Linked DNA regions of Homo sapiens: region 1 is linked to region 2. The links come from fine-mapping of genetic effects on gene expression. Tissue or cell type: whole blood. Region 2 holds a variant in brackets; the other region holds the start of a gene. All regions are shown on one strand. Distances are between the middles of the regions.

Region 1 (2,673 bases), 140 kb before region 2:
ATGGTCTCACTTTGTCACCCAGGCTGGAGTGCAGTGGCACAATCATGGCTCACTGCAGCCTCTGCCTACCAGGCTCAAGTGATCCTCCTGCCTCAGCCTCCGAAGTAGCCAGGACCACCGGTGTGCGTCACCATGGCCAGTTAATTTTCTTAATTTTTTGTAGAGACAAGGTCTTGCTGTGTTGCCCAGGCTGGTCTCAAGCTCCTGGCCTCTAGCGATTCTCCTGCCTCGGCCTCCTAAAGTGCTGGGATTACAGGCTTGAGACACGGTGCCTGGCTGGTCTTTTCTTTATGCTAAAAAAATTCAAACAGATGCTACATTAGAATAGTGCAATAAACACCCAGATGCCCATCAACCAGCTATGACAGTTATCAACTCATGGCCAATCATGCTTCATCTTTAGCCAGACCCTGATTACCCATTTTTTGGGAAGCAAATCTTTGACTGCCTATATTTTTATCCATATATATATATGTGTGTGTGTGTGTGTGTGTGTGTGTATACCTCAGTGAGTGTGTGTGTACCTCAGTGAGGGGATTCTTTTAAAAAATATAGCCACAAATACCATTATTACTCCTAAAAGCCTAAAAACAAAATTTACAGCAATTCCTTAATTTTATCAAATATTATAATTTGACTTAGTGGTTAAATTTCCCTGATTATCTCAAAAATTTTGAACTCAGTAGGTTTGAATTAGTATTTAGATAAGGTTCACATATTGCAGCTGGCTGCTATGTTTTTTTTTTTTTTTTTTTTTTCAGATGGAGTCTTGCTCTGTCCCCAGGCTGGAGTGCGGTGGCGCCATCTCGGCTCACTGCAAGCTCCACCTCCCGGATTCATGCCATTCTCCTGCCTCAGCCTCCCGAGTAGCTGGGACTACAGGCGCGTGCCACCACGCCGGGCTAATTTTTTGTATTTTTTAGTAGAGATGGGGTTTCACCGTGTTAGCCAGGATGGTCTCGATCTCCTGACCTCGTGATCCACCCGCCTCGGCCTCCCAAAGTGCTGGGATTACAGGCTTGAGCCACCGCGCCCGGCCTGCTATGTTGTTTTTTAATCTGTAAGTTTCTCCTTCATCTTCTTTTTGTTTTGGTTTTGCATTTTGTTCGATTACGGAACTGTAGAACAGTGGTTCTTAAACTTAAGTGTGGATTAGAATCATCTGGAGAGCTTGTGAAACCCTGGATTGCTGTGTCCAGTCCCCACGGATTCTGATTCCGTATTGTATTTCTCTTTTTTTTTTGAGACGGAGTCTTGCTCTGTCGCCGAGGCTGGAGTGCAGTGGCGGGATCTGGGCTCACTGAAACCTCCGCCTCCCAGGTTCAAACGATTCTCCTGCCTTGGCCTCCCGACTAGCTGGGACTACAAGCGCGCCATTACTGGGTCTTTGTGAGGATTAAATGAGATTTTAAAAAGTGAAGTGCTTAGCATAGTACTCTGGCACTTACCAAATGCCCAGCAAATTTGACTGTTATTTTTCAACCAAGAAATCATAAAGGGGTGCACGGTCTGTGGAAGGCCTTGAGTTTTGTGGAGTTTTGTGTTTTGCTGCGTTTTGACGTTAGCACAGGCAAGCAGCAGCGCCAAAGAAGTACCTGAAGAAAGGTGAAGAGCAACTCTCCTGGTCACTTCGTAAGTCAGCTCAAAATTCTGCCCCTTTAAGGAGGGCTCAGCCACGTGACCAACCGGGTCACATGGCCCGCGGGACAACATGGCTGCGCCCGCACTAGGGCTGGTGTGTGGACGTTGCCCTGAGCTGGGTCTCGTCCTCTTGCTGCTGCTGCTCTCGCTGCTGTGTGGAGCGGCAGGGAGCCAGGAGGCCGGGACCGGTGCGGGCGCGGGGTCCCTTGCGGGTTCTTGCGGCTGCGGCACGCCCCAGCGGCCTGGCGCCCATGGCAGTTCGGCAGCCGCTCACCGATACTCGCGGGAGGCTAACGCTCCGGGCCCCGTACCCGGAGAGCGGCAACTCGCGCACTCAAAGGTGCTCCATCGATTCCTCCGAGGCGGGTGGGGGCTGCTCGGTTCCTGGACGGGGTTGGAGTAGGCAAAGCAAGGCACTAGTAGGAAGGGAAGTAAAGGTTATAACCACACCCCAAATCGAGCACCTGCTGTTCCCGTATGAGGAGTTCCTTCTCCGTGCCTCACCGGAAGACTCCATTTAATTGACCATTAGGGAGTTTGGTTTGAGGGTTATTGTTACTTCTTTACCCCCTATTTCTTTCTCCCTCCAACCTGTTCTCTTAATGAGGATCTCATAATTTTAAGGCAATCAAATTATGGTTTAAATCACCATTTCCTCTCTTATTAACGGAATAAATTAGGATCCTGGGTCTCAGTATCTTCACCAGGGTTGTTGTATACTTATCTGTAGTCTCCTCGAGTACACTCTGCTTGAGGACAAGGGCTTGAATTGTTTATCCTGCTATTCTTAGCACTTTAGCACTTAGGAAGGGCTAAGCAAACTGTAGTTGTTTTATTGCTATTATTTATCTGTCTTGCTTAGCGCCTGTATGTGTTAGGTGCCGGGATATATAAATAACTTACTGGCCGGGCGCGGTGGCTCACATGCCTGTAATCCCAGCACTTTGGGAGGCCGAAGCGCGCGGATCACGAGGTCAGGAGTTCGAGACCAGCCTGGCCAACATGGCGAAACCCCGTCTCTACTAAAAATAC
Region 2 (2,850 bases):
CTGAGTCTATTGATTAGATACTATCTCTACCAGATGTTTTAAGGCATAAAACTTGCTTCTATGATTTGTTTTGATACCTAACTTGTCTATAAACTTATGTCTTTAGATTTATTTATTTATTTAATTTTTTGGAGATGGAGTCTTGCTCTGTTACCTAGGCTAGAGTGCAGTGGCGCGATCTTGGCTCACTGCAACCTCCGCCTCTTGAGTTCACGCAATTCTCCTGCCTCAGACTCCTGAGTGGCTGGGATTACAGGTGTGTGCCACCACGCCAAGCTAATATTTTGTATTTTTAGTAGAGACAGGGTTTCACCATGTTGGCATAGTCTGGACTTGAACTCCTGACCTCAGGTGATCCACCCACTTCAGCCTCCCAAACTACTGGGATTACAGGCGTGAGCCACTGTGCCCAGCCTTTTATCTTTAGATTTAAGTTTTTAGGCTATGACTAGGCCTAGCTCCAGGCATTGTCCTTTGTTCTGGACTTTGCATCTGGTACATAATTAAAACGGCTTACCTCCAAGGTTTTTCACTAAAAATAAGAGTTACTAAAAGTTAACATTGTAATAAATGTATATAATTGAAATTACTAAATACAAGAGAAAAAATTCTCCATCGAAAGTGTATAAGGGAAGTAGGACATGTTTTTGGTTTAAGAAAAGTTATCAGAAGGCATGAAAATGTGGTTTTTGTTAAAAGGAAAGTAATTTTGCCTAGTTTAAAGGTTTTTTTTTTTTAAATTAAAGGAATAAAAAAAGGACAGATAAAACTACACAAATATAAAAAGTTGGAAAAGAAGGTAAATTTTTGTCCTAAAGTAAGATGACAGGACAAAACTGAAGGTTTAAGCAAATTGTAGAAGGTTTGTAGAAGACTGACCTTGTGAAAGGAATTGTATGTGCAGTTAAGTTGTCTAAAATTTAAAATGATTATTTACTTTTTCTATACAGTAAATATTAATATCAAAAGCACATTGATATTAGAGTCTGGGCCCTTGAATTGGAATAACAGAGTTTTACAGGAGCATTGATTTGTTCTTTAATAGAAAACTGTAAAAAGGTTATAAAAAGACTTATGGAAATCTTACTTTGTGATCAAACTGATTGAGATTGAGATGGATTTGTTGACAAT[G/A]TTTTACTAAAAATTGGCTTCAGCATTAGTAATACACTAATGTAATGGTAAAATTTGCTTTTCTCTTTTAAAAAGATTTTTGTGAAATACTAAGAGATAAGAAAACATTTATCTTTTGAATGAGCTGGAAAAAAAGACAGTTGAGTGACAAATTCATCTGGCCTCATGCTGTCTGATTTGGTTTGGCTGTGTCCCCACCCAAATCTCACCTTGAATTGTAATAATCCCATGTGTCAAGGGCGGGGCCAAGTGGAGAAAACTGATTCATGGTGGCAGTTTCCCCCATACTGTTCTTGTGGCAATGAATAAGTCTCGTGAGATCTGATGGTTTTATAAATGGGAGTTCCCCTGCACAAGCTCTCTTGCCTGCCACCATGTAAGACGTGCATGGTCCTCCTTTGCCTTCAGCCATGATTGTGAGGCTTCCCCAGCCATGTGGAACTGTGAATCCATTAAACCTCTTTTTTCTGTATAAATTATGCAGTCTCAGGCATGTCTTTATTAGCAGCATGAGAACTGACTAATACAGTAAATTGGTACTGGTAGAGTGGGGTGCTGCTGTAAAGATACCCAAAAAATGTGGAAGAGACTTTGGAACTGGGTAACAGGCAGAGGTTGGAACAGTTTGGAGAGGTCAGAAGAAAGGAAGTTGTGGGAAAGTTTGGAACTTCCTAGAGACTTGTTGAATGGCTTTGACCAAAATGCTGATAGTGATATGAACAATAAAGTCCAGGCTGAGGTGGTCTCAGATGGAGATGAGGAACTTGTTGGGAACTGGAGCAAAGGTAACTCTTGTTACACATTAGCAAAGAGACTAGTGGCATTTTGACCCTGCATTAGATTTGCAGAACTTTGAACTTGAGAGAGATAATTTAGGGCATCTAGTAGAAGTAATTTCTAAGAAATACAAAGTGTTCAAGAGGTGACTTGGGTATTGTTAAAAGCATTCAGTTTTATATATTCACAAAATTATGGTTTGGAATTGCAACTATGTTTAGAAGGAAAGCAGAGTATAAAAGTTTGGAAAATTAGCAGCCTGATGATGTGATAGGAAAAAAAAAAAACATTTTCTAAGGAGAAATTCAAGCTGGTTGCAAAAATTTGCATAAGTAATGAGGAGCCAAGTGTTAATTGCCAAGACAATGGGGAAAATGTCTCCAGGGCATATCAGAAGTCCTCAGGGCAGCCCCTCCCATCAGAAACCTGGAGGCATAGGAGGGAAAAATGGTTTTGTGGGCTGGGCCCAGGGCCTTGCTGCTGTGTGCAGCCTAGAGACTTGGTGCCCTGTGTCCCAACCACTCCAGCCATGGCTAAAAGGGGCCAACATAGAGCTCAGGCCATTGTTTCAGAGGGTGCAAACCGTAAGCATTGGCAGCTTTCACGTGGTTTTGAGCCTGTGGGTACACAGAAGTCAAGAATTGAGGTTTGGGAACCTCCACCTATATTTCAGAGGATGTACGGAAATGCCTGGATGTCCAGGCAGAAGTATGCTGCAGGGGCAGAGCCCTCATGGAGAACCTCTGATAAGGCAGTGTGGAAAGGAAATGTGGGGTTGGAGCCACCACACAGAGTCCCCACTGGGGCACTGCCTAGTGGAGCTGTGAGAAGAGGGCCACCGTCCTCCAGACCCCAGAATGGTAGATCCACCAACAGCTTGCACCATGCACCTGGAAAAGCCACAGACAATACCAGCCTGTTAAAGCAGCCAGGAGAAGGGCT

What was found. PIP is the estimated chance that this variant, and not a neighbour inherited with it, causes the effect.
Region 1: SUMF1 starts here. The variant in region 2 is fine-mapped to the expression of SUMF1 in whole blood (TOPMed, PIP above 0.99).

What each region holds. Positions count from the first base shown.
Region 1 is chr3:4,466,284-4,468,956 of GRCh38, reverse strand. SUMF1 (sulfatase modifying factor 1) reads left to right here and starts at 1,688. Exons shown (of 9, transcript NM_182760.4): 1 at 1,688-1,981. The coding sequence starts at 1,712. It overlaps LOC124909340 (a long non-coding RNA gene), which reads right to left and starts at 2,133. Exons shown (of 2, transcript XR_007095789.1): 1 at 1,449-2,133; 2 at 1-293. RefSeq lists an enhancer at 1,462-1,641 and a silencer at 1,812-1,991.
Region 2 is chr3:4,329,111-4,331,960 of GRCh38, reverse strand. It overlaps a transcript of SUMF1 not described here. Among named protein-coding and RNA genes, the nearest start is that of SETMAR, 27 kb to the right of the region's middle. The variant G/A (reference allele first, on the strand shown) is at 1,132.